Linked DNA regions of Homo sapiens. The protein of the gene in region 3 interacts with the protein of the main gene of each other region in a biochemical or structural test. Each region holds a gene or a part of one and is shown on either strand. Other genes may lie near its edges.

Evidence for each region.
Region 1: the proteins of BICD1 (region 3) and GSK3B form a complex in vitro, tested with the Homo sapiens proteins (one study listed by IntAct).
Region 2: the proteins of BICD1 (region 3) and RAB6A form a complex in vitro, tested with the Homo sapiens proteins (3 studies listed by BioGRID).
Region 4: the proteins of BICD1 (region 3) and PTPN23 form a complex in vitro, tested with the Homo sapiens proteins (one study listed by BioGRID).

What each region holds. Positions count from the first base shown.
Region 1 is NC_000003.12:120,084,446-120,091,469, reverse strand, and holds part of GSK3B (glycogen synthase kinase-3 beta), read left to right. Parts: intron 1-6,821; exon of another isoform or gene 6,822-6,906; intron 6,907-7,024. UniProt on the Homo sapiens protein: Constitutively active protein kinase that acts as a negative regulator in the hormonal control of glucose homeostasis, Wnt signaling and regulation of transcription factors and microtubules, by phosphorylating and inactivating glycogen synthase (GYS1 or GYS2), EIF2B, CTNNB1/beta-catenin, APC, AXIN1, DPYSL2/CRMP2, JUN, NFATC1/NFATC, MAPT/TAU and MACF1.
Region 2 is NC_000011.10:73,702,070-73,709,093, reverse strand, and holds part of RAB6A (ras-related protein Rab-6A), read left to right. Parts: intron 1-1,580; coding exon 1,581-1,674; intron 1,675-7,024. UniProt on the Homo sapiens protein: The small GTPases Rab are key regulators of intracellular membrane trafficking, from the formation of transport vesicles to their fusion with membranes.
Region 3 is NC_000012.12:32,102,547-32,109,853, reverse strand, and holds the start of BICD1 (protein bicaudal D homolog 1), read right to left. Parts: upstream 3,008-7,307; 5' UTR 2,523-3,007; coding exon 2,310-2,522; intron 2,193-2,309; coding exon of another isoform or gene 2,166-2,192; exon of another isoform or gene 1,964-2,165; coding exon of another isoform or gene 1,943-1,963; exon of another isoform or gene 1,210-1,942; coding exon of another isoform or gene 1,153-1,209; exon of another isoform or gene 1,046-1,152; intron 1-1,045. UniProt on the Homo sapiens protein: Regulates coat complex coatomer protein I (COPI)-independent Golgi-endoplasmic reticulum transport by recruiting the dynein-dynactin motor complex.
Region 4 is NC_000003.12:47,405,003-47,412,026, forward strand, and holds part of PTPN23 (tyrosine-protein phosphatase non-receptor type 23), read left to right. Parts: intron 1-2; coding exon 3-79; intron 80-746; coding exon 747-796; intron 797-912; coding exon 913-1,044; intron 1,045-1,322; coding exon 1,323-1,403; intron 1,404-1,478; coding exon 1,479-1,610; intron 1,611-1,700; coding exon 1,701-1,748; intron 1,749-2,127; coding exon 2,128-2,184; intron 2,185-2,306; coding exon 2,307-2,365; intron 2,366-2,502; coding exon 2,503-2,582; intron 2,583-2,694; coding exon 2,695-2,809; intron 2,810-2,887; coding exon 2,888-2,953; intron 2,954-3,342; coding exon 3,343-3,488; intron 3,489-3,773; coding exon 3,774-4,085; intron 4,086-4,160; coding exon 4,161-4,315; intron 4,316-4,414; coding exon 4,415-4,566; intron 4,567-4,652; coding exon 4,653-4,832; intron 4,833-4,925; coding exon 4,926-6,684; intron 6,685-6,780; coding exon 6,781-6,965; intron 6,966-7,024. UniProt on the Homo sapiens protein: Plays a role in sorting of endocytic ubiquitinated cargos into multivesicular bodies (MVBs) via its interaction with the ESCRT-I complex (endosomal sorting complex required for transport I), and possibly also other ESCRT complexes.

The DNA.
Region 1 (7,024 bases), on a different chromosome or scaffold from region 3:
TTGAATTCTTGGTAATACAGATACTAACTAAGGATGGAGTAACTCTTGTAAAATATATAGATGAAAATGTTTAATTCCGATTACCATATAGGTCAATTTAGAATTTTAAAAGTTGGAGTTTAGTGTTAATTATGTGTTTTTGACAGCTTTGACTTTAAAAGCATTTAAAAGAAAGGGGAGTCTTTAAGCATTTGTTAGGATGCTAGCATTCTAAGGAACCCCTGTTGAAAACAGACATAAGAAATTGTAGTCCTTGCTCTCAAAAGCTTATCCTTTAGTTGTAGAGGGAGGCTATGGGGAAAAAAAAATTAAAACAATAGCGTGATGACTGCAAGATTGTAAAATACAAATTGAATCATTTGTTCAGAGTGGCAAAGAGTAAAGGGGTGAGACTGATGGTTGGGAGAGGAAAGACTTCCTGCGGACAAGGTGTATTAGGACTGATGTTAAAGGAGGTGGTAACTTGAACTGGTAGAAAAGCATGAAAGGTCTAGGTGGAAGGAGTGTACCAAGGAACAATGATGGTGAGTTTTGCATGAGAGACAATAATCAAGTTGACAAATCTGAATTAAAGGGGCCTAAATAAGAACATAAGAACAGATGGAATTTGAGAAATAAGAGAAAGTTAGCTGATGGAGGGCAGAGGGGTTCTGTACAAGTTTGATTGAGATTCAGAAGAGATCTGGATTTATTGTTGGTTGCTGAATAAGACGTAAGATGATTTTTGCAGTTGAATTAGTGAATTATAGTAGAGAGATGCTAGAGCCTTTTTAGGGAGCTAGTAGGGTATGTTGTGAATCATGAGGGAATAAAGTAAAATGTGAAAGTGGGGTGAAAGGAACAGGTTTGAGAGACAGTGTGAATGAAGAACTGGCAGAACTTCATACTGGACTGAAGTGGAATATTTGTGAAGGAGTCAAGAGTTAAAAATAAATTCTGATGTTACTGGCCTGGAAGACTTGACTGCTAAGTTATATTGTTAATTGTAATGGGAAAATTGAGAAAGTGCTGAGGTGAGAGGGTAGGTGAGTTCACTTTCTTAAAATTTAATATACAATAAGTTCCCTTGAAATTCAGACAGCAGTTAGTTACTGGCAATGATATTTGACTTCCTAGTCTATTAATTGCACAGTTTCTAATTTTTCTACACCTAAAGATGTTGGATTTATATTCGGGAGCAGTAAACTAAGGGCTTTTATTTAAATGCTTCTCATCAAAGTCCTAATTTTTTTTTTTTTTATATACAGCTTCAAAAGCCTCACACTTGAAACCTGGTTATAATAGTTTCATGATGGCTTATTTCAGATCAATGAAAATACTTTTGGGACTAAACTGTGACTGTAACATTTTAGATATGTAGCCATTAATCTTTGATATATGCTTAAAACTTGTTTTTTATAAATAATGATTATTACTATTATTTTAAATGCAAAATTTATCTAAGAATAAAGTATTGAGAGCCTTCACTTTGTGAAGACTCCAGAAGAAATTAAAAGTTGATTTTATAACAAGTATTTTTTGCCCTTTTTGTTGAGTTTAGGCATTAATCCCAAATTTAAATCAGTATATTTGAAATACTACTTTTTACTTGCTATAGTGAAACCAATGTTTCATTTTTGTTCACTTCCAAGTTTACATGTAATTAAATAAATGTTTATAAAGTTTTTCTTTAGAATCACATGATATTTTACTCCATAGGGAAAGTAAGGGACTGTTTGTGGCACTTTTGGTTAAAATATTAGTAATCCTTTTGGTATATACAATTGGAGAAAATTTAGCTAGTTGTTTAGGTTTAATACTTAAATATAAGATTTAGAAATATGAAAATAAGTCTGTATCACTTAAGTTGTTTCCTCATATAAAACTTTTTTAGATCAAAATTTCTATTAGCAAAGAGAGAATAATAGTAGCTGCATATTATTCTGCAGTATTACGTCGTATGGTGATTAAAGCCAAAGAGTAGGTAGCAACTTAGAGTTTCCGTATTCCCCTGGGAAGTTTAATCTCTTTATGACATCTAAAAATTAGGTTATTAGAGTTTAGTCCATTTCTTGATAATCCTGTGTTAATGTGGAAAAGAGTTCATGTGTGAGACTGAAAACCAGAACTTTATTTTCAGTCATTTCCCAACCCGACTTCCCCAGAGTTGTTAAAACGTTTAAGATATTTAAGAATTGCATGCTTTCTTGTTGCATGCACCTGTAGAATGCTAATTGTGAAGTGACAGTAAGTCACAGGCAAAAGGAAAAACTTCAAGGGAACCCAGTGATTCACAAATCACCTTATGGCTGATTGGGAACTGCATTTAGAAAATGAGGTGACATCTTCTCATTTCACTGGCAAAGTTCAGCTGAAAATCAGTACTTGCACGCTTTACTGTGTAGCCCTTATATTAGAATTGAGTTGCAGGTGTGAGATAATATTTTGGAGAAACAGCAAGGCTGGGAAAGTCAGAGATTTTATTCCAGCAGCAGAGTCTAAAGAGTGGGAGAGCTCTATTTGTGTGTGCACTTTATGCATAGAGAAGGCTGTGAAACATGCATATGTTGACCCTATTGTCACAGTTCCATACTTTTAAATAAGACCCATGAAGTTGAGACAGGGTTGGAGATGACAGACAGGATGTGAGATTGTGGTGCTTCTTGTGATGCTCCACCCTATAATGGAGAATGGAGGGGCAGAACGCTTGTGTGGGTGAGACAAGAGTGTGTGTTGGTACTAACAGGACCAACCGGGTTCCCCGGATATTGTTCTTCTAAGAACATAATCACCATAAGTAAATTAATTTGTTGGAATGTTTATCATTTTCTAGCTGATTTTTTGTGTGTGTGTGTGGGGTGGTGGTGGTGGAAGGGGAGTTTTCCCCGATTTCAAGAATAAAAGCATTTTCATTGTTCAGAAGAAGAGCATTTTCATTAAAGCGGAGGTTGCACTCTTGGCATTTTATCTTGAGTTATACAAATCATCCTTGGTTATACAAATCAAATTGCTTTTGAAATTTGTTGAGTGTAATGTATAAATGTATATTTATATAAAAACCTATGTGAATAGAACAGCAAGGAAAAACTGAGTAGAGTTAAAGAAGTTTGTTTTCCCTGAGATTTTCTGCCTTTAAATTTATATAAAAAAGGAATATTCCATTTTACGTTATTGAGTTTTCTATTTTTTTAAATGAGCTAATACTCAGTACATAATGGACATTTTTAGTAAATTATTCCAATATACTTGTGTCTGTAATGCATTTGATGTGGTATAAGATTTAGAAACACAATTTAGTTCGGCTGGCACGGTGGCTCACGCCTGTAATCCCAGCACTTTGGGAGGCCGAGGCGGGTGGATCACGAGGTCAGGAGATCAAGACCATCCTGGCCAACGTGGGGAAACCCCGTCTCTACTAAAAATACAAAAATTAGCGGGGGCGTGGTGGTGTGCGTCTGTAGTCCCAGCTACTCAGGAGGCTGAGGCAGGAGAATCGTTTGAACCCATGAGGCGGAGATTGCAGTGAGCTGAGATCGTGCCACTGCACTCCAGCCTGGGCGACAGAGAGAGACTCTGTCTCAAAAAAAAAACAAAACAAAAGACAATTTAGTCGATTTGGGTTCTTAGTTTATAATCCCCCTTACCATTTTTGCTTATATTTTGGGAAGAGAGGTCAACTTCCAAACAATGTGCAGGTTCCAATTTTATAAGTGATTAAATCTTATATTTTTTGTATTGAATAGTTTTCTTAGCATGTTTGGTTTGATCACTTGAAGTAATGATGTATTTGTCTTGAAACTAGTTTTGTCAAACCAACTTTTTATTTCCAGAGTACCATGGTTAACAACAGCACAAAGCCAAGTCCTTAACGTGTTCCCTTAATAACATGGTCTAAGGTTAATTTCTTGATTCTTATTTCAAATCAATTCAGTAATAAAAAGTACACTTTTTTTTTTTTTGAGATGGAGTCTCGCACTGTTTCCTGGGCTGGAGTGCCATGGCGTGATCTGGGCTTACTGCAACCTCTGCCACCCAGGTTCAAGCGATTTTCCTGCCTCAGCCTCCCAAGTAGTTGGGATTACAGGTGCCTGCCACCACACCTGGCTAATTTTTTGTATTTTTAGTAGAGACGGAGTTTCACTGTGTTGGCCAGGCTGGTCTCAAAATCCTGACCTTGTGATCTTCCCACCTCGGCCTCCCAAAGTGCTGGGATTACAGGCGTGAACCACCACATGTGGCCGAACTAAATTGTGTTTCTAATTTAGTTTTCCTGAAGAATAACAGCTATGCATCAATGTGGAATTGTGTTATTTGGAATCTCACCTTATTGGAATTGGCTGGTAATTGACAGTAAACCAGAAGTGCTCCTGAGCAGCTAATATCTGCAGACAAATGGAGTGTAAACTTTGCTCATAGGTTAGTTTTCAGGCTTTTATTAACGGTTCCTTGTTATTATTTAACATATAGTTGTAATTCATTGAGTTGTCTGGGTTTTTTTGAAATCACAGATCAGGGGAATGGATAGGTACTGATTAAGCATTATGCTACTGAAAAGAATGGATGATTAGGGGAAACAAGCATATTGGGATTACTTAGTGTATGTAGGGTATGTAGGTTCATATAGTTCCAGGGTAAATCATTCTGATAATTGTTGAAAATGTTCACCCAGAGAAATTTTTTTTTTTTTTTGGAGACAGGGTCTCGCTGTGTTGCCTATGCCTAGCCTGGAGTGCAGTGGCACAGTCTTGGCTCACTGCAGCCTCTGCCTCCTGGGCTCGGGTGATCTTTTAACCTCAACCTCTGGAGTAACTGGGACTATAGGCATGCGCCAACATGCCTGGCTAGTTTTTGTAGTTTTTATAGAGAGGGGGTTTCGCCATCTTGCCCAGGCTGGTCTTGAACTCCTGGAATCAAGCAATCCTGCCTCAGCCTCCCACAGTGCTGGGATTACAGTCATGAGCCACTGCACCCATCTGAGAATATTAATTCTCTTTTAAAGAGGCAGGAGGCAGAAAAATCTCTTGTGGAAACCTGGGCTTCTGCATAAACTACATAAAATATCTGTAATTTGTTGATCACTGAAGTGATGAAGAGAACTGGGTCACCTCTGTCTGATTCACCATCTTCTAGTTGGATTTCAGCAGTATGGATAAAGGTACTAAAGTCTTTAGTGTGCTAGCCCAGGGTATTGTTTCCAACTCTTTCTTCCATTGTCCATCTACATTTATTAACTCAGCAGCAGAGTTTTATCTGATTTAAGATTTGTTGTCTTACTATTTCTGTTTTTTTTTTTTTCCTCCTTAGTATATATGGAATTGCTGCTTGGATTTTGGCTGGCTTGTACCTTTTGTTTGTGGACTGCTTAGAAGGCACTGCATGGAGTCATTTAAGCTTTCTTATGAATTATGAATAGCTATGTAGAGAGGAACTTTTCTAGATACATTTATGGCCTATGAGAATTGAAAAGCTGGGTATCTTAATTGTTAGGCTGAAGAAAAAGGGTGATAGTGGCAAAGTAGTTTTTCTTTTGGAGGTCTGAGAAATTCTTAGGGGCTTAATTGGCTAATATAACTAGAAAGGTTGGGTGATTTAGGTTTTTTTCCAAGGAAAGGTATCTTATTTAAATGCAACACTGTCTGCTTCCTGTTATTTTATAAAATTAGTTAATACTTTTTTTTTTTTCTCAAGACGGAATGTCACTGTGTCGCCCAGGCTGGGGTGCAGTGGCACAATCTTGGCTCACTGCAACCGCCACCTCGAGGCCTGGTTCAAGGAATTCCCCTGCCTCAGCCTCCTGAGTAGCTGGGATTACAGGCATATGCCACCATTCCCCGCTAATTTTTTTGTATTTGTAGTAGAGATGGGGTTTCACCATGTTGGCCAGACTAGTCCTGAACTCCTGACCTCAGGCAATCTGCTGGCCTCAGCCTCGCAAAGTACAGCAAAATCAGTTAATATTTTTAATTGATTAACACTTTCTTCATGACCTGTGTTGAAGTTATTGAGTTGAGTCAATTGAATTTCTAATGCTAGATTTTGAGTATGTGGTGTGAGCACCTGAAGAGTTGGAGGTACTGGAATTATGTCTGACATCAGACTGATAGTATTTGCAGGGACATTTGCCCTAGTGGAATTCAGGGTTTTCACATTCTATACATTACTTAAATTATGAAGGAAAGGGGGAAGCTTTGAGTTGGTAGACTTTTAATAATAAGATATAATTACATGTATATAGAAGAGCAACGTACTGTATATCATATTCTCATAATATATGGTAATAACGGCAGTAATTATTGAGTGCGGTGTGCCAGATAATTGCATGTTTTATTTACCTATTTTGCTTTAAATTTTAAAAAATGTAATTTACTCACATGGTTCAAAATTTTAAAGATATTCAGTGAAGTCTTCTCTCCTGCTCTGCAACAACCAGTTCTCTTTCCTGGAGACCACTGGCATTACAATTTCTTATGTGTCCTTTCATAGGTATTCTGAATCTTTACGGATTAATGATTTCTATAGTAGACTTGCATTTTGTGTATACATACATAAATTAACAATAGCTTTAGCAGAAGTGTTAGAATTAAAACAAATTTAAATCAGTAACTCTAGAAAATTGCTATTTTTTAACCTATTAAATTAGTAAATACTTATTTCTCTAAATATAAGTTAGTTGGAGAATAAGTGCAAAGATGACAGAGCTCCTCTCGTGGCAATTAGAGGTAAAATGTTAATAGTCTTAACCAATGAACAATTAATAGCACATTTAAAATAGATGTTTATTTCATAATAAAAAGACAGGATAATTTTTTAACTTTCTATTTTTCTAACATCTTAGATGAGAAAACCTGTTCTCTTGAGAGATCAGAGGCGCAGAGTGCGTCAGTGTCAATGAAGCCTGTGCCTTTTACTTCTTTAAGAGCGTACGGTTTCATTCTGCTCCTAAATCAAGCACCCCTTAGTTGTTGAATAAAAATTACTTTTATAAAGGAATATATGATTTAAAGAAATCAAATAGTGCAGAAGGGCTTATGATGGAAAGTAATCT
Region 2 (7,024 bases), on a different chromosome or scaffold from region 3:
ATTTAGGGCTAAAGGTCTGCAGATTGGCGGTTTACTCTCAAACAGTTTTTTAAAAGTGTTTCAGAAAATTTATATACACAGAGAGAATGAGAAGATAACACAAGCAAATGTAAAATCTTAACAGTTGGAGTGTTATGTAAGAGAATGTTCTTGTTTTTAGGGAGTGGAGAATTCTAGAATAATAATTTCTTGTAGGCAAGAAGGGAGTGGGATCTAATACATAGATGTAAGTTTTGAGAATAAGGACAACTCTTTCATAGTAATAGGACTAGAGGTAGGATATAAGGGCACACTTGCAAGTAAATGGAAGCTTGTGGAAATTCTCTTCCATTGCCCATTTTCTGTGTTGTAGGAAGCAGGGTTTGTCAGCTGATAGTTTAAATCTAGCTAATTAGAACATTTGTATATTTATGGAATACTTATCTGCCAGCTTAAGCATTAGGAATACCAATATAAATGACATAATCTTGCACTTGAGATCTCACAATTTGAGACATAGTGCTAATTGTAATGCATCACAAAATACCCTGTAAAGGTAATATTAAAGTATTAATATTTTGTATCTAGAGGCTTTACCATACATGTCTTTGACTCACTTACTTCACTTACAGAAATCCACAAAATCGGCTGGGCACGGTGGCTCACGCCTCTAATCCCAGCACTTTGGTAGGCTGAGATGGGTGGATCACCTGAGGTCAGGAGTTTGAGACCAGCCTGGCCAACATGGTGAAACTCTGTCTCTACTAAAAATACAAAAATTATTCAGGTGTGGTGGTGGGCGCCTATAATCCCAGCTGCTCAGGAGGCTGAGGCAGGAGAATCGCTTGAACCCAGGTGTTGGAGGTTGCAGTGAGCTGAGATCGCGCCATTGCACTCCAGCCTGGGTGACAAGAGCAAAACTGTCTCAAAAAAAAGAAAACCACAAAATCTAACCTAAGGAAATGATTTGCAGTGCACAAAATATTAAGCACAGATATTTAGGGCAACAATTTTCATAGTAGTGTAAAATTGGAAAGCAACTTGCATTCTAATAGTTTGGGAATGGTTATATAAATTATAGGAGCAAATTGACAGAAATTGTTTAGCCATAAAAATTGTTTTACACAAAGATTTGAATTTTAAGGCTAAAAGCCTGTGGTCTGATATTAAGGGAAAGAGGCAAGCTATTAAGCGTTTTTTGTTTTGTTTTGTTTTTAGCTTTTTCTTTTTTTGAGACAGGTTCTGTTGCCCAGACTGGAGTGCAGTGATGTGGTGGCCTAATAATGGCCTGCTGCAGCCTCAACATTCCTGGGCTCGAGCATCCTCAAGCTATTAAGTTTGTAAAAGTAAAAAAATTACAGGATGAGCCCAGTCAAGTGAAAGCAAATCAGTAACAAAAAAAAGTCTTTAAAAAAATGTTAAGTATACACACACAGAAACACACAAATTTCAAGAGTGTGGCAGATTAATGAATTTTTAAACTAATGTGACCTGTATAACCAGTCCTTATATCAAGGAAAGTTATTTTCAGAGCTTTCTTTATAATCTTTATAATACTGCCTCATGTCTCAAAAGTAAGAAGTTTGTTTGTTTCTTTACAGGCAAGTGTCAATTGAGGAGGGAGAGAGGAAAGCCAAAGAGCTGAATGTTATGTTTATTGAAACTAGTGCAAAAGCTGGATACAATGTAAAGCAGGTAAGTTGAGTTGAGGTTACCAAATTGAAAAAATATGAAATAATTGTGTGAGTATTCTATTCTCTGGTGTATAGGTTTCCTTCCACCTGGCAAGAGCAGGCCTTACAAACTAGCAGTATATTTTCAAACAGTGAAAAATATAAATGTGGCATAGTTTTTGGAAAAAGAGAAAAGACTTGCAAACTTCAGATCGTGGATAGAACTACTGCAAAGTGGTAAATCTACCATATTGTCACTACATTCCTACTACATTGCTTTAAAGGTAAATTTTCTTTTCTTTTTTTTTTTTTTTTTCTTTTTTGAGATGGAGTTTCGCTCTTGTTGCCGAGGCTTGAATGCAATGGCGTGATCTCGGCTCACTGCAACCTCCACCTCCTGGGTTCAAGCAGCTCTCCTGCCTCAGCCTCTCGGGTAGCTGGGATTACTGGCATGCGCCACCATGCCCAGCTAATTTTGTATTTTTAGTAGAGATGGGGTTTTTTTCATGTTGGTCAGGCTGGTCTCAAACTCCTGACCTCAGGTGATCCGCCTGCCTTGGCCTCCCAAAGTGCTGGGACAGGTGTGAGCCACCATGCCCGGCCGGTAAATTTTATTTCAGAGTTTGATGCCAAGACTGAGATAAATGAAAGCAAGTATTTACTGTCAGTAATGGTGTTCCACTTCTTGTTGTAAAAGTAAATTCTGGTTACTTTATCCTTAATAAAATGCTGGTGTTTGAACAGTGTTTACAACAGGTCTTTTTGGGGGAGGGCAGGAAAATATAGGGAGATGTCACATTATCAAGCCATTTTCTACAAGATAGGTCAGCCAGAGACTCACATGCTTAACTCTTCAAGGCTGTATATCATGTAGGGTAGTGGTCCCAGATTTATAAGATTTATGGACCAATAATTTTTTTTTTTTTTTGAGATGGAGTCTTGCTCTGTCGCCCAGGCTGGAGTGCAGTGGCGCGATCTCGGCTCACTGCAAGCTTCACCTCCCAGGTTCACGCCATTCTCCTACCTCAGCCTCCCGAGTAGCTGGGACTACAGGTGCCTGCATCACGCCTGGCTAATGTCTTGTATTTTTAGTAGAGACGGGGTTTCACTGTGTTAGCCAGGATGGTCTCAATCTCCTGACCTCGTGATCTGCCTGCCTCAGCCTCCCAAAGTGCTGGGATTACAGGTGTGAGCCACCACGCCCGGCCTAGACCAATAATTTTCTTAATTGAGGGTGATCAACAGAGGGTAACAGTAACATCATTTAAATAGTTAAAGCTTTAGGAAGAAGTCTTTATATTGTTTTTATATTTTTTAATTTATTTCCCTCCATGCCTTGAATCATAATGTAAGTAATATTGAATGATCACTGATTCTTTCCTCATTAACATATTGTTTCATGGTCATGGTTTGATACCTGTGCTCATGCTTTTGTTTCCTTTGCTTAGAATGTTCATTTTTTTTCCCTTTCCTAATTGTACTCCTTATAAGTTTCAGTTTAGATGTCAGCTCCTCAGCAACATTTTCTCTGACATTTCCCATCCTACCTCCTGTCTGTGACACCTGATTCTCTTATGTGTTTTCACCGACCTGATCTCAGCAAAAACAGTATCATTACTTACCATAGTATATTGAAAATCTCTCTCTCTCTCTCTCTCTCTCTCTCTCTCTCTCATCGGAATTATATATTCCCAGAACCTAGCAATGTGTATGGAACGTAGTAAGTGATACGTAACTGAACCCATAGGAGCCACAGACAGTTAAATAATTTGTGTAATACCATTATATTAGCCATATGCCACTATTCTAAGACAAAGCAGTGGGTAGCTTCATCTGGCTTTCTCTTTTCTATTTCTTATATATATTTTCTCTTATATTTATTTATTTTTTTATTTGAGACAGGGTCTTGCTGTGTCAGCCAGGCTGAGTGCAGTGGTGCAATCTCGGCTCACTGCAACCTCTGCCTCCAGGGTTCAAGTGATTGTCATGCCTCACACTCCCCAGTAGCTGGGATTACAGGTGTGCAGCACCATTCCCGGCTAATTTTTGTACTTTTAGTAAAGACAGGGTTTCACCTTGTTGGCCAGGCTTGACTCAAACTCCTGGCCTTAAGTGATCTGCCTGCCTCTGTCTCCCAGAGTGCTGGAATTACAGGTGTGAGCCACCACACCCAGCTGGCTTTCTCTTTTAGAGACATTTTGATAAGGGTGTGAGCTAGTTGCTTATATATCCTGGTACAGGCTGTCCTTTTCCTGGTTAATAGCTAAAGAAGGCATTGCTGTAGTCCCCTAGCCCTGACCCTAAGTAGTCTCATAGGTTTAGAAACTCTAGAATTATCAGATAGCATACAGTAAGCACCACTGATGTCTAGTATCTTCATAATGTTTGATTGCTTCCAATTTTATTTTTATTATTTTTGTTATTTATTTATTTATTATTTATTTTCGAGATGGAGTCTCGCTCTGTCATCGAGGCTGGAGTGCAGTGGCGTGATCTCGGCTCACTGCAAGCTCCGCCTCCCAGGTTCACGCCATTCTCCTGCCTCAGCCTCCCGAGCAGCTGGGACTACAGGCGCCCACCACCACGCCTGGCTAATTTTTTGTATTTTTAGTAGATAGGGGGTTTCACCGTGTTCACCAGGATGGTCTCGATCTCCTGACCTCGTGATCTGCCCACCTCGGCCTCCCAAAGTGCTGGGATTACAGGTGTGAGCCACTGCACCCAGACTATTTTTATTTTTTATTTATTTATTTTTTTTGAGATGGAGTCTCACTCTGTCGCCAGGCTGGAGTGCAGTGGCACGATCTCAGCTCACTGCAACCTCTGCCTCCTGGGTTGAAGTGATTCTCCTGCCGCAGCCTCCCGAGTAGCTGGGACTACAGTCGAGCGCCACCATGCCCAGCTAATTTTTTTGTATTTTTAGTAGAGACGGAGTTTCACTATGTTGGTCAGGATGGTCTCGATCTCCTGACCTCGTGATCTGCCTGCCTCGGTCTCCCAAATTGCTGGAATTACAGGTGTGAGCCACCATGCCTGGCCCTTCTTATTTTTATTTTTTTGAGTTGTGGTCTTGCTCTGTTGCCCAGGCTGGAGTGCAGTGGCATGATCACAGCTCATTGCAGCCTTGACCTCTCAGGCTCAAGTGATTCTCCCACCTCAGCCTCCAGAATAGCTGGGACTACAGGCACACACCACCATGCCCAGCTAATTTTTAATTTTTTTCCAGAGAATAGGTTCTTGCCATGTTGCCCAGGCTAGTCTTGAACTCCTAGACTCAGGTGATCCTCCCAACTTGGCCTCGAAGATTTCGAGATTATAGGTATGAGCCCCTCTGCCTGGTCGATTTTTAGTAAATTTATAGCATTGTACAACTATTACCATAATCTGATGTTAGAAATTTTTTTTTTTTTTTTGAGATGGAGTCTCCCTCTGTTGCCCAGGCTGGAGTGCAGTGGCACCACCTCGGCTCACTGCAACCTTGCCTCCCGGGTTCAAGCAGTTCTCCTGCCTCAGCCTCCCAAATAGCTGGGACTACAGGCGCATGCCACCACGCCCAGCCAATTTTTGTATTTTTATATGATCCTGACCTCAAGATCCATCCATCTCGGCCTCCCAAAGTGCTGGGTATACAGGCGTGAGCCACGGCGCCCAGCCCTTCTTACTTTTAATTTAGATTGTTTTTGTTTTTGTTTTGGGTTTTTTTTAGACAGTCTTGCTCTGTTGCCCAGGCTGGAGTGAGTGGCACAATCTTGGCTCACTGCAACCTCCGCCTCCCTGGTTCAAGTGATTCTCATGCCTCAGCCTCCTGCCTAGCTGGGATTATAAGTGCATGCCACTGTGTCTAGCTAATTTTTATATTTTTTGTAGAGACAGGGTTTTGCCACGTTGGCCAGGCTGGTCTGAAACTCCTGGCCTTAGGTGATACGCCCACCTCAGCCTTTCAAAGTGCTGAGATTACAGGCGTGAGCCACTGTATCTGGCCAGAAATTTTTTAATTGTCAGTTTATTCTGCCTCCCCACTAAACAACAAACTCCATAAATGTTCATTGAATGAATGATAATATACTTTATTTTTTTTTAGCAGATTCTTAGAGCTGCATTGTTTTGCCATAAAAATAAGATTTATTTCATGTCCTTGGTTCTGTCTTAAGAATTTTCTTAGCTAGACTGAACAAGCCCTAGAGAAGCCAGGTTACTTGGAGAATTGCCCTTCATTTGCTGTTTTGACTACACCTTAGACATAGATACATGTTCATCTTCCGTTTCTTTGCATTCACCTGAACCCATGTTGAATTTTTTTTTTCCAATTTTTTTTAATTAGGCCAGGCATGGTTGCTCATGCCTATAATCCCAGCACTTTCGGAGGCTGAGGCAGGCGGATCACTTGAGGTCAGGAGTTCTACTAAAAAATTAAAAAATTAGCTGGATGTGGTCTCATACACCTGTAATCCCAGCTACTCGGGAGTCTGAGGCAAGAGAATCACTTGAACCCAGGAGGCGGAGATTGCAGTGAGCCAAAATCACACCACTGCACTCCAGCCTGGGTGACAGAGCGAGACTCTGTCTCAAGAAAAAAAAAAATAATAATATATATAAAATTGAGATAAACATTTATGTACAGTGAAATGTATACATCTTAAATTGACTATTAGATGAGTTTTGGTAAATGTATTTACAGGTATAATGACCACAGCAATGAAGATATGGAAATATGTTGTTAATTTCCCAATGTTTAGGGACATTTCTAGATAATCTTAATTGTTACTGGCTTCTAATTTAATTCTGTTATAGTCAGAGAATACACTCTGTAATATTTCAGTCATTTGTAATTTATTGAGACAAGTTTTATGGCCTATCATATGGTCTATCTTATTGAATGTTCTTATATGTACTGGAAAAAGAATTTTTTTTACAGTTATCAGGTATACTAGTTAACATGTTTGACAGCATTCTCAAACCTTATATAGCCTGGCTGGGCACAGCGGCTCATGCCCATAATCCCAGCACTTCAGGAGGTGGATGTGGGAGGATCACTTGAGGCCAGGAGTTCAAAACCATCCTGGTCAACATAGTGAAACCCTGTCTCTACAAAAGTAGAAAAATTTTTTTGAAAATTAGCTGAGCATGGTGGCATGCACCTGTAGTTCCAGCTACTCAGGAGACTGAGGCAGAGGATTGCTTGAGCCCAGGAGTTCAAGGCTGCAGTGAGGCATGATTGCGCCACTGCATTCCAGCCTAAGCAACAGAACAAGACTGTCTCAATAAACAAAAAAACACCTTATATATCCTTACTAGTTTTTTGTCCAGTTCTGTCGATAACTGAGAAGGGGATATTGAAACCTATAACAACAACGATGTATTGTTCGCTTTGC
Region 3 (7,307 bases):
TTATTTTGGATTTACTTTTCATACAAGAAATGTTACTTGAAATCAATTTAACTCATTTAAGTTATATTTCCAACTAAAGTATATTCTATGTTTAAAGAATAAAAATAATAGGCCTCACTATCAAATAATCAACTATAATAATTTTATTACCTAAAATACATTTTTATATAACTGTATAAACCAGTTTTTTAGGAATCTCGAATTTCACTTATGCTAAATGCAACTGAAAATAAATATATGAACAAGAATCGTTTAGTAAAAATAATGCTGGTAAATTTTTATTAACCTCCTGCTATATAGAACAAAATATATATTAAAATATTTATAGAAAAAATTTTAGTTGGTATTTGCATTATTCTGTATTAAGAAACCACAGTTACATTATTCCTACAAAACGTTTTTTTCACATTTTTCTCATTACTGCTGGTGAAACTAATACAGGTAGTTTTATTAACATCTGTCACTTCCTATACATCCTAATTTTCTTAGTATTTATCTAACACTAATCAATATTGACTAGTGAACCCTTGATAAAAGTGTGCCTTCTTCTAGTACAAACTGATTCTTTCATAAAATATTTCATGCCCACTGTGTGCTAGCTTTTGTGTTAAAGACTTGGGATGCAAAGCTCATGGTGTAGCAAAGGCAAAACACAATTGCATTAAGGTTTGCTATGCAAGGTAAGTGCAATGACAGAAATATCCCTAGAAGGATTGTTTAAATCAAGCAGCAAAGTCAGTAAGAGGTACATTTCATTAAATTAAGTCCATCTCCTTTATCAAGAAGGTGATGGCTTACCACTTTCTGGTTTGCACTTCCCTATCTTGGCAAAGCAGTGTTGATAGGTATAGACAATATCAAAACATCTCTGAGAATGACAGTCATCATCCTGCTTCCTCACTTCACAAGGTTTAGCATCACTGCATTTAAACATGTCAGCCTAATCTAAGTTGGAAAATATAAACAAGTCCAGCTGTTGTTAAGACCAGACAGGTACATGGTAAGTAAAATAGGAACCAGAAATTTACAGCCTGACACACAAAAATTAGATTCCTAGTTGGGATTTTTAATCATAGGTAGTACATTTATTTTTTGGTAGACAGGCATCCAAATAAAAATAAGACATATCTAAAAGTATAAATGCTTACCATATTACACACTAAATTGGAAGGCAAGTTGATTCAGTATGTCATAAATCACATCTTTTAACTGTAACAGCATAAAATAAATAATAGATTTTTGATATTATATGCCAAACAATAATTAACATTTAAATGTCAATATGCACCTAAAAATAAGGACTTGACACACAGAAAAGGAGTGTATATTACATTTAAATTTGTAAGTGGTTATTTGCTACCCATAGTGCCTCAAGAATCAGATAAAAAAGACCGAGTTACTTAAACAATATGTATGTTCTTAAGAGTGACTGATAGGAAATCAAAGCACGTTCATTGTTTTCTCCCATACATCCGACAGGCTTTAAAAGAGGCCAAATACCAAAAAACTAAAGAGACATTATACATCACCCATTTTTGATATTCTGGTTTTATAAATATATCATTTCAACCAGAAGAGCCTCATTTGAAATGCAACACTACCCACGTATTTGATATACACCACTCTTTCAGACTATTTGTAGGTGAGTTCAATTTTTTCTAGTCAGGGTGACCTCATAAGACTTGGACATGGCCCAGCCTCGCTCCGAGGTGAAATCAAGGCAGTGGGATCACCCAGCAAAGTTGTTTTTCTTCTGCAGCCCAATGACAAGAATGACTAAAGCCAAGCAGAATGAAGATTGCCTAGCCTTTGTCAAATGGGATTGGTGAGGAGTTCCCTCTCTCACCAAGGAGTGGTTACATCCAGAGGAAAGCTGAGGTGCCACACAGTCTAAATCCTGAAATTGTGGGTCCTCAGGCACAAACCTCATCACTTTTGTGGACTACGAAATTGTCGCTGAAACCTGGGTTTGAGATAACAGCGGTTTTGAGAAGTTTGATTTATACATTCCAACCCACTTGAATGTCGTCTTAGAGTGCTGAGACTTGATGACTCTTACTAATCTCCCTCCCCCGCAGGCCAAACAGCCATTGCCTCCCAAATTCCAGCTTATATATTCATTTCTTAGGCAATTTTTCTCTTGGGGGAGGAAACAATGGACTCTTTCAATCTTCTCTTACCAACAAAGGGCCCTAGAAGAAAAAACAGTCCTTTCAATCACCTCCTTTATGACTTCTTGATCATGATGAGTGGGCCTTGCGGGTGGGGGGAGTGAGGGCCAGGAAAGGGAGAGGTGACAGGCAACTCACCTCTTTGAGCTGCTCCAGCTCCTGTTTGAGGCTGTCGTACTCAGCCTCCAGTTCATCATACTGCTGTTTGAGGGTCAGCTTCTCCTCCAGCACCACCAGCCCGTACTCGGCAGCCTGGATCTTCTCGTGGGTGGTCTCCGTGAGCTCCTTGGTTAGCCTCTCTATCTCAGTCTTATAATGGTCCACCGTCTGCAATACCTCTTCTGCGGCCATAGCCCCGGTGGATGGAGGCAGGAGGGGGTTACGGGGTGGGGGAGATGGATGCGAAGCTGGCGGGGAAAGGGAGAAGGAAATGGGAAGGGATGGGTGGAAACGGAAAAGAAAGTGCGGCCGGATGAATGAGCAGCGCGATGCCCCGCCGGCTCTGGTGGCAGCGGCAGCTACACCGCCCGAGAAACTGACGAGAAATGCAACATGGAGAACAGGGCAGAGGGTCAGGGGCGAGGCGGCAAAGGCCGCCGCATGTGTCCTCGGGGCCGGCCCCTGCGTGCGGTCAGCAGCCGTGCGGCATGGCCCGGGCTGCGGCGGCCGCGGGTAGCGAGGGGCTCCGGATTCTGCTTATTCAGAGACGCCCGTCCGCCATGTCTCCCGGGCCGCGTCACTGCAGTCTCGCCCTGGGTCTGGCGCGCTCCGGCTCGCGGCTCGCTCTCTCGCTCCACCTGCTCCCTCTGGCCCTGCAGCAGCCGGTGCGGAATGATGCAGTCTCGGGGCCGGCTCCCTCCCTTCCCGCGTGGCGGCGGCTCCGAGCAGGGGGCGGGGAGCGGATGGAGTCAGCGCGGGGGGCGGAGGGAAGGACCAGACGGAAACATCCCGAGGCGCCTCCCGCCGGGCGCGCGGGCCGCCGCCCGCTGCACCGTGAGGCGCGCCAGGAGGAGGCGCAGGCGACGGGTCTGGGACTGGGAAGCGGTGGGGCGCGCGCGGCGGGGGAGCCTCCGCCCTGTCCGGCTCGCGGGGGCGGGAGCTCCTCCCAGGGCTTTGTCCCGGTGGCAGTAGAAGACCCCGAGAGCGGCGTGGGCGCCCGGGCTCTTTTGCTACGTCGAGGGCCGAAGCTCAGGAAACTGCCTGGAACGCTTTCTCCCGAGAAAAGCAAACAAAACTATCGCGGTCGCGGTCCGCGCATCCTCCTCGTCCCCTGGGCGCGCAGAAGGCTTTTTGGGCCACCTGCCCCCAAAAGACCGCTGGGTTTCCCAAAGCTTTCAAGACGCACCCCAAGGCGCCCTCCTCCGTCGTCCCCCTCTCTCCCTGCCTCTCCCAAGTCTGGCCTGGGCCACCTAACACTCTCACCAGATAACCTTACTATCCTCACAGGACAGTCCGCTAAATATTGCTCGCCCTCACCCAGCGTATCACAAGAGCGCTATCCACTCAGAAAAAAAATATCTCCACAATACATGCACCCAGGAAACCTCTAGCTAGGTACTGTATATCTTGCCCCAATAGTTTCCATCAAAGCACCTTACTCTGTGTCTTCAATAAAGGAAAACTGCTTGAAATTCCCTATATAAGATACCAACGATGCCCTGTAATAAGCATTTTTTAAACAATAAGAGCTAAGAGTTCTTGAGACCCATACCAAGCATTCTTCTAAGTATGTAACATGCGTTCTCTCCAATCCTAACAATGCTTTGAGGTAAGAGCCATTATCCTCAGTTTACAGGGGGTGAAAGGCAAAGGGAGATGTGATTTGTCCAAAGTCAGGCAACTCTGGAATCTTAACTCGGGAGCACTAAACGGGATCATTATGTTGGCTTCAGGTTCACTCATTACTCATACAAACCCAGCAACTACATATTACATGCTTTTAAGATAATCACATTAATCCATATGAAGAGTGATGATGAACGGTTACAAAAGGAGGTGAAAGCAAAGTAAGAGTGGAGTAAATGAAAGAGTGGAGAAGGGTCGAGAATCAAGAGGAAGAACGCAACATGAGAGAAAAGAAGCAATTTCTGTGTAACGGGAGGCTGTGAGACCCACAGATCAGTGGGTCTTTCCAGTTCCCTCTCTTCTTCTGCATGGCACCTATTCCAGAGCTGTTTCTCAGTGACCAGGTGATGAACACACATGCGTTTTCTAAGTTAGAAAGCAGGACTCAACTCTCCCATCATTGTGTACCTGGTAAAAAAAAAAAAAAAAAAAAAAAAGATGATTGTTGACCGGGCACAGTGGCTCACGCCTATAATCCCAGCACTTTGGGAGGCAGAAGTGGATGGATCATTTGAGGTCCGGAGTTCAAGACTAGCCTGGCCCACATGGTGAAATCCCATCTCTACTAAAAATACAAAAATTAGCCAGGTATGGTGGTGCACGCCTGTGATCCCAGCTACTTGGGAGGCTGAGGCAGGAGAATTGCTTGAATCCAGGAGGTGGAGGGTACAGATGGCACCACTATACTCCAGCCTAGGCAACAGAGACTCCATCTCAAAAAAAAAAAAAAAAAAGGACACTTGTTGATGGCGTGGGAGAAAAAGCATATGACAGTGCCCTTCCAAAGTTTCCACTAGCAGGCTGTCTGGATGTGTTTTCCATTGCTTCACAAACCAGACAAGTTTCCTTCTAAACGCCAGCGATCACAACAGAATATTCTCATGTGATTGTCTGATCTAAAAATAAAACAAAAGAATATTCTCTTGTGATTGTCTGATCTAAAAATAAATAAATAAAAGGAGAAAACATTCCAAATGTGCAGCCACCATAAATTCCAGCCTTGTAGAGAAGCGGATGATAATGACTACAACATCCGACCCATCTTTCCTTATCTCGCACTCCAGGTGGGAAGCCCCTCCTGTGTGCTCCCGTGGCATCTGACCTCTGACACGTTGATGAATGATGATGAACTGCTGAAAAGAGATGGAACCTGCAATTGCAGGTAGCTAACCTGCCTTCCCAGGAAGCCTCTGGCTGTTCCTCACTCTACAAACTGTAAGCATAGGCCTTCCAAAGGGATCATAAGACTCGCACTAGATTGCCTGTGCCTCCCTCTCCTTTGGATCAAACTAAGAACAGAGTTTGCCTCTGTGACTTTCCTTTTTGCTAAATTTCCATTGTGGTCCAGCCCCTATGCTCTATCCTGCCCCGTTTTTCTGATTGATACACTTTTGTCACTTGTCACTTTTGTCTGATTTCAGGCATGTCTTGCACACTCTGACACTTTAAGATGTTGCTTAGTTGAACTTTGATCCTTAAATGTTGGTATTTAACGTAAAGAAGATAAACTTATTTTCTTGTTTTTTTTCTCTTTTTTTCTGAGACAGGGTCTCCATCACTTAGGCTGGAGTGGAGTGGCATGATCATGACTCCCTGCAGCCTCAACCTCCTGGACTCAAGCGATCCTCCCACCTCAGCCTCCTGAGTAGCTGGAACTACAGATGAATACCACCACACTCAGCTAATTTTTTAAATTTTTGTAGAGACAGGGTCTGTCTATGTTGCCCAGGCTGGTCTCAAACTCCTGGGATCAAGTGATCCTCCCACCCTGGCCTCCCAAAGTTCTGGGATTACAGATGTGAGCCACCATGCCCAGCCAAATTTATTTTCCTATACACCATGCTGTTCCAGTACTGCATAGTTACAGTTCCCTCTTTTTTCGTATATGCCATATGTATTGCATATATATCAATGACAGGTATATAGAAAATAATTTCTTAAAGCATTCCTAGGCTGGGTGTGGTGGCTCATACTGGTAATCCTAGCACTTTGGGAGGCTGAGGCAGAAGGGTCACTTGAGGCCAGCAGTTCAAGACCAGCCTGGGCAACATAGCGAGACCTCATGGCTACAAAAAATTAAAAAATACTAGCTGGGCATGGTAATACATGCCTGTGGTCCCCAATACTTAGGAGGCTGAGGCAGTATGATGGCTTGAACCCAAGAGATTAAGGCTGCAATGTACTGATTGTGCCACTGTGCTCTAGCCTGGTGACAAAGCAAGACTCACCAAAAGAAAAGAAAAAAAGGCCAGGCTCGGTGGCTTACACCTGTAGTCCCAGTACTTTGGGAGGCCGAGGTGGGCGGATCATCTGAGGTCAGGAGTTCGAGACCAGCCCGACCAACATGGTGAAACCCCATCTCTACTAAAAATACAAAAATTAGCTGGGTGTGGTGGTGGGCGCCTGTAATCCCAGCTACTCGGGAGGCTGAGGCAGGAGAATCACTTGAATTCGGGAGTTGGAGGTTGGAGTGAGCAGAGATCCGCCACTGCACTCTAGCCCAAGTGACAGAGTGAGACTCCGTCTCAAAAAAAAGAAAAGAAAAAAAGCAAAAAAAAAAAGCACAAGCTAGTCTACTTGGGTCATATCCAACTTTGCCACTTACTAGCTGTGTGTTTCTCAGTTGTGTCATATCTAAAAAGGAGATAATAATATAATCTAATTATGAGATTGTTGTGAATAGAATAGTATCACACACATAAGCATTTTATATGTGCTTTTTAAAAGTTTTAAAAGAAAAACAAGGATAAAATTTAGGTAGAAAGAAGAAAAAAAGATAATCAGTAGAGATCTCTCTGAAGAAGTGATATTCATTTTATTATCTATGAGGAACAAAAAGGAGTCGGATATACAAAATGTGGGGGAGAAGCTTTTCAGGGAAAGGAAATAATGTGTAAAAGCCAAAGGCAGAAAAGAGCTTGTTGAGTGCAAAGAATAAAAATCTGAGAGGCTGCTGGGTGCAGTGGCTCATGCCTGTAATCTCAGCACTCTGGGAGGCCAAGGTAGGAGGATTATGTGAGCTCAGGAGTTCGAGACCAGCCTGGGCAACATACCAAGACCCCATTTCTACTAAAAAAAAAAAAAATTTTAATCGAACGAGCATGGTGGTGCATACCTGTAGTCCCAGCTACTTGGGAGGCTGAGGTGGGACGATCCCATGAGCCTGGCAGTGAAGGCTACAGTGAGCCATGATCGTGCCACTGCACTCCAGCCTGGGTGACAGAGCAAGACCCTGTCTCAAAAACAAATAAAAAAAAAAAAAAATGAAAGAGGCTGAGGATTAAGAAGCTC
Region 4 (7,024 bases), on a different chromosome or scaffold from region 3:
AGGACAGAGATCTTCTCAGGCAAGTCTGTGGCCCATGAGGACATCAAGTACGAGCAGGCCTGTATTCTCTACAACCTTGGTGAGCTGCCTGATCCCTTCCCCCGGCCCTACTCCCCAGTCCTGCCAGCCTAGCTTTCAGCTCTTCAGATGGCCACAAAGGCAGTGGGCTGATAAAGGGAGGACTCCAGGATTCCCGCCCCTCCACTGACCTCCCCACAGCCCTGCCAGCTCCTCCACTGTTTTCTGGGCTGGGCCCGTGGGGAGCCTCTGCTGGGGCGAGGCTCTACTGGGCTGGCTGCCACACAGAGTTGCCACTGTGTGCTCTGTCTGGGAGAGAGGGCCTTTCTTCTTTGACTGGACAGCCCCTCCCCACTGTGGTTTTGGGCTGCTTCAGGCAGGAGGAGAGTGTGGCTGGCCTCAGCTTACCCTGCTAGTCAGCCTTAGCCTGGCTCAAGGGAGAAGCTTGGGGAGCCCCAGAGTTCTGTGCAAACATCCCTGAAGCTTCAAGATTGGACCCCTTGGACAGGAGCCCTTCCATCCTCTGCCAAATGCAGAGCAGGAGACTGAGGGCTGGGCAGGACTTCTGAGTTTCCCTGTTCCCTCCAGCTTGGGTGTCCTTGGACTCGTTGCCCTGGTTCTCAGAGCCATGTTGTCCTGATTGTGGATAACAGCAGTGCCCCCTCTGTCTCACCTTCACATGGGTGTGAGCAGCCCCAGGCCCCTAACACTGTCCCCTCCCTCCCCAGGAGCGCTGCACTCCATGCTGGGGGCCATGGACAAGCGGGTGTCTGAGGAGGTGAGGAGAGGGGCAGTAGTGGAACATGTGGACATACCAGGGAGGGGCAGCCTCCCAAGTATGGATGAATCCTGACCCATGGAGTGGACACAGGCCATCCTCCCACTCCCTCCCAGGGCATGAAGGTCTCCTGTACCCATTTCCAGTGCGCAGCCGGCGCCTTCGCCTACCTACGGGAGCACTTCCCTCAAGCCTACAGCGTCGACATGAGCCGCCAGATCCTTACGCTCAACGTCAACCTCATGCTGGTGAGGAGGCGCCCTGGTTGGAGTGGAGTTGAATCCAGGGAAGGGGATGGCCAGGGAGGGGGCAGTTGGGCCTGGATCCTGGACCAAGGCAGTGAGGGACAAGCAAGGGGCCTTGGCTTTGTTGAATCAGGAGCACCGTGGTGCTGCTTGGAGTGGGGGCAGCTGGGGGAGAGGGCAGTGAAGAGGGATCCCTCAGTCTGCCCCTGGGGAAGGATAAAGGGAAGGGGAAGCGGGAGGCCTTGGGTGAGCGAGGGAGTGCACCTCACGTGTCGCCCCAGGGCCAGGCTCAGGAGTGCCTCCTGGAGAAGTCGATGTTGGACAACAGGAAGAGCTTTCTGGTGGCCCGCATCAGTGCACAGGTAGGGACGGGGCTGAGGGGAGGCCTTCACTTTACTGCTGACTCCCCCACTCATTGGGCCCCACCCTGTTCTCAGGTGGTAGATTACTACAAGGAGGCATGCCGGGCCTTGGAGAACCCCGACACTGCCTCACTGCTGGGCCGGATCCAGAAGGACTGGAAGAAACTTGTGCAGATGAAGATCTACTACTTCGCAGCCGTGGCTCATGTGAGGGCCTGGGGCCCCAGGGCGGGGCAGGGCGGGGCTGAGTGGCCACAGCTCAGGAAGCAAGTCGTGGCGTCTCTTCTTCTTTCCCAGCTGCACATGGGAAAGCAGGCCGAGGAGCAGCAGAAGTTCGGGGAGCGGGTGAGCTACAGCGAGGAGGGGACTGGGGACCAATGGCAGCCTTCAGTGAGATGCCGGTGTGCTCCCGCTCCTTACACACCAGGGGGTGGCCTTCTCTGTCTCACCCTGGCCATCACCCTGCTGGAGGCCTGGTGTCTTAAGTGTTGTCCCATCTGTGCAGCCCTCGTCCCTCGGGGTCTGAGGAGGTGGGGCAGGCTCCCTACAGAGCAGGTGGCTGGGGCAGGGTGTGGCGCCACCTTGCTGCTGTTGGCTGGGGTGGTGCCCGGCTGCCTCCTGAGCTGCTTGTCATCTGATGGACAGGCAGGGCCGGGTGGGAGGCAGGAGGAGAAAGGGTCCAAGCAGAGGAGGACAGAGCAGGCTTTCCTGCCACCCTCCACAGGTTGCATACTTCCAGAGCGCCCTGGACAAGCTCAATGAAGCCATCAAGTTGGCCAAGGTAAAGCTGAGGAAGGCCTGGCTGCCCTGAGGGTATAGGAGCAAGCCCGGTAGGACTGAGGGGGTGTCCTGGTGCCAGCCTTGGTTAGTGCTAAGGCCCCACCCCTGTCCCTAACCCCACAGGGCCAGCCTGACACTGTGCAAGACGCGCTTCGCTTCACTATGGATGTCATTGGGGGAAAGTGAGTCTGTGGGGGTGGCCCTGGTTCCCTCTTTTTGTGAAGGGTCTTGTCCCTCTGCTGGCATCTACATGGGAAGTAGGTTCTGGATCCCCACTGACACCCCGTGACTGCCCACTCCCCCTGCTCCTGATCCCCAGGTACAATTCTGCCAAGAAGGACAACGACTTCATTTACCATGAGGCTGTCCCAGCATTGGACACTCTTCAGCCTGTAAAAGGTCGGGGAGCTGAGAGGTGGGGGCAGAGGTGACGGTGGGGTGGGGACAGGACACAGGAGGCTGCCTCAAGGACTCTGCGTGGGCCTGATCTCCACAATTCCCACCCCCCCAGGAGCCCCCTTGGTGAAGCCCTTGCCAGTGAACCCCACAGACCCAGCTGTTACAGGCCCTGACATCTTTGCCAAACTGGTACCCATGGCTGCCCACGAGGCCTCGTCACTGTACAGGTGGGTGGAGGGTGGCACAGAGGGAGGTGGGGTGTCTTGAGATGTGGGTCTTCAGCAAATGCTCTGTCGCTTCTGCAGTGAGGAGAAGGCCAAGCTGCTCCGGGAGATGATGGCCAAGATTGAGGACAAGAATGAGGTCCTGGAGTGAGTGTGGGACTTGGGCAGGGAGGCGGAGGCAGGCAGCACTTCCCGGGCCTCTGGGGGCCCCAGGGCTGCCTATGCTGGGAGAGGAATGAAATGTCCATTCCAAACAGGTTTCCCAATGCTGCCTTCCCGCCTGGGGTGGTGGGGCTAGTGTGTAAGGCAGGAGTCATGTCTTGGGAGGAGGAGGTGCCTTCTGTTCCACTGTTTCCAGCAGTGCCCTGGGCATGTTCTGTGAGACCAGGCCAGACCTGGTAGTAGGGGTCCGAGGTCACAATTTGCTCTCTGCTGAGACCTCAGATTGAGTGGTGAGGCTTGCCCTAGCGGCTCCTTTGACATGGTCAGAGTTGGATCAGCACCCAGCACCCACCTGGCCCTGTTGCTCCCCACAGCCAGTTCATGGATTCAATGCAGTTGGATCCCGAGACGGTGGACAACCTTGATGCCTACAGCCACATCCCACCCCAGCTCATGGAGAAGTGCGCGGCTCTCAGCGTCCGGCCCGACACTGTCAGGAACCTTGTACAGTCCATGCAAGGTGAGTAAGGGGCAGAGCAAGCAGGTGGAAGGGAGTGTGGAGGTCATCTGCTGTGGCCTCCTCCGTGTCCCTGGTCACTGAGGATGGAGGCTGCACCCCTCTAGGCCCTGGCTTGGGCATCCACACCCACTCCTCTGAATCAGCATACCTCTTGCACCCTGCTCAGTGTGCGCTGGGCCTCACTTAAGCCCTGACCTGAGGGGGCGGTTCTGTCTCTTGGGGGAGGGGCCCATGGGTGCCCGGTCAGCCTGCCTCAGGGGCTGCCTGTACAATCCACAACCCCAGTGCTGTCAGGTGTGTTCACGGATGTGGAGGCTTCCCTGAAGGACATCAGAGATCTGTTGGAGGAGGATGAGCTGCTAGAGCAGAAGTTTCAGGAGGCGGTGGGCCAGGCAGGGGCCATCTCCATCACCTCCAAGGCTGAGCTGGCAGAGGTGAGGCGAGAATGGGCCAAGTACATGGAAGTCCATGAGAAGGCCTCCTTCACCAACAGTGAGCTGCACCGTGCCATGAACCTGCACGTCGGCAACCTGCGCCTGCTCAGCGGGCCGCTTGACCAGGTCCGGGCTGCCCTGCCCACACCGGCCCTCTCCCCAGGTGAGCCCCACCAGACCCCATTGGGAGACTCGAGCTGGGGGTTTCTCTGGCCTCACTGACCACTGCTGCCCACAGAGGACAAGGCCGTGCTGCAAAACCTAAAGCGCATCCTGGCTAAGGTGCAGGAGATGCGGGACCAGCGCGTGTCCCTGGAGCAGCAGCTGCGTGAGCTTATCCAGAAAGATGACATCACTGCCTCGCTGGTCACCACAGACCACTCAGAGATGAAGGTGGGCTGGGTGAGCAGGGTAGAGGGGCTCTGGCTCCGGGCCCCACCCTTAGGAGTCGAGGCCCTGAGTGTCCGTCCCTGGCCCCCACCCCTTCCTCAGAAGTTGTTCGAGGAGCAGCTGAAAAAGTATGACCAGCTGAAGGTGTACCTGGAGCAGAACCTGGCCGCCCAGGACCGTGTCCTCTGTGCACTGACAGAGGCCAACGTGCAGTACGCAGCCGTGCGGCGGGTACTCAGCGACTTGGACCAAAAGTCAGTGCCCAGTCCTCTGCTCTTTCCCGGAGCCACCTGGAGCCCAGCCCCATGGTTCACCTGGAGCTGGCCCTTCTGCCCACCAGGTGGAACTCCACGCTGCAGACCCTGGTGGCCTCGTATGAAGCCTATGAGGACCTGATGAAGAAGTCGCAGGAGGGCAGGGACTTCTACGCAGATCTGGAGAGCAAGGTGGCTGCTCTGCTGGAGCGCACGCAGTCCACCTGCCAGGCCCGCGAGGCTGCCCGCCAGCAGCTCCTGGACAGGTTTGTGTGGCCCTGGGGCTGTGGTGCGGCTCGGGTCCAGACAGGCTGGGGTGATGGGAGCCTGGCCCCACTTTTTCCTTGCCTGTCGCACAGGGAGCTGAAGAAGAAGCCGCCGCCACGGCCCACAGCCCCAAAGCCGCTGCTGCCCCGCAGGGAGGAGAGTGAGGCAGTGGAAGCAGGAGACCCCCCTGAGGAGCTGCGCAGCCTCCCCCCTGACATGGTGGCTGGCCCACGACTGCCTGACACCTTCCTGGGAAGTGCCACCCCGCTCCACTTTCCTCCCAGCCCCTTCCCCAGCTCCACAGGCCCAGGACCCCACTATCTCTCAGGCCCCTTGCCCCCTGGTACCTACTCGGGCCCCACCCAGCTGATACAGCCCAGGGCCCCAGGGCCCCATGCAATGCCCGTAGCACCTGGGCCTGCCCTCTACCCAGCCCCTGCCTACACACCGGAGCTGGGCCTTGTGCCCCGATCCTCCCCACAGCATGGCGTGGTGAGCAGTCCCTATGTGGGGGTAGGGCCGGCCCCACCAGTTGCAGGTCTCCCCTCGGCCCCACCTCCTCAATTCTCAGGCCCCGAGTTGGCCATGGCGGTTCGGCCAGCCACCACCACAGTAGATAGCATCCAGGCGCCCATCCCCAGCCACACAGCCCCACGGCCAAACCCCACCCCTGCTCCTCCCCCGCCCTGCTTCCCTGTGCCCCCACCGCAGCCACTGCCCACGCCTTACACCTACCCTGCAGGGGCTAAGCAACCCATCCCGGCACAGCACCACTTCTCTTCTGGGATCCCCGCAGGTTTTCCAGCCCCAAGGATTGGGCCCCAGCCCCAGCCCCATCCTCAGCCCCATCCTTCACAAGCGTTTGGGCCTCAGCCCCCACAGCAGCCCCTTCCACTCCAGCATCCACATCTCTTCCCACCCCAGGCCCCAGGACTCCTACCCCCACAATCCCCCTACCCCTATGCCCCTCAGCCTGGGGTCCTGGGGCAGCCGCCACCCCCCCTACACACCCAGCTCTACCCAGGTCCCGCTCAAGACCCTCTGCCAGCCCACTCAGGGGCTCTGCCTTTCCCCAGCCCTGGGCCCCCTCAGCCTCCCCATCCCCCACTGGCATATGGTCCTGCCCCTTCTACCAGACCCATGGGCCCCCAGGCAGCCCCTCTTACCATTCGAGGGCCCTCGTCTGCTGGCCAGTCCACCCCTAGTCCCCACCTGGTGCCTTCACCTGCCCCATCTCCAGGGCCTGGTCCGGTACCCCCTCGCCCCCCAGCAGCAGAACCACCCCCTTGCCTGCGCCGAGGCGCCGCAGCTGCAGACCTGCTCTCCTCCAGCCCGGAGAGCCAGCATGGCGGCACTCAGTCTCCTGGGGGTGGGCAGCCCCTGCTGCAGCCCACCAAGGTGGATGCAGCTGAGGGTCGTCGGCCGCAGGCCCTGCGGCTGATTGAGCGGGACCCCTATGAGCATCCTGAGAGGCTGCGGCAGTTGCAGCAGGAGCTGGAGGCCTTTCGGGGTCAGCTGGGGGATGTGGGAGCTCTGGACACTGTCTGGCGAGAGCTGCAAGATGCGCAGGAACATGATGCCCGAGGCCGTTCCATCGCCATTGCCCGCTGCTACTCACTGAAGAACCGGCACCAGGATGTCATGCCCTATGACAGTAACCGTGTGGTGCTGCGCTCAGGCAAGGATGACTACATCAATGCCAGCTGCGTGGAGGGGCTCTCCCCATACTGCCCCCCGCTAGTGGCAACCCAGGCCCCACTGCCTGGCACAGCTGCTGACTTCTGGCTCATGGTCCATGAGCAGAAAGTGTCAGTCATTGTCATGCTGGTTTCTGAGGCTGAGATGGAGAAGGTGAGAAGAGGGGGTGGGTGCCCACGAGGGCAGTGTGGGGTGGCAGGGCAGGGGATCCTGGAAAACCAGGTCTGTCTTGGCTTATCTGTCCCTCAGCAAAAAGTGGCACGCTACTTCCCCACCGAGAGGGGCCAGCCCATGGTGCACGGTGCCCTGAGCCTGGCATTGAGCAGCGTCCGCAGCACCGAAACCCATGTGGAGCGCGTGCTGAGCCTGCAGTTCCGAGACCAGAGCCTCAAGCGCTCTCTTGTGCACCTGCACTTCCCCACTTGGCCTGAGTTGTGAGTCCACTGCTCTGGATGGTGGTTGGGGGTCTAAGTGCTGTCCAGTCCTTGGTGCT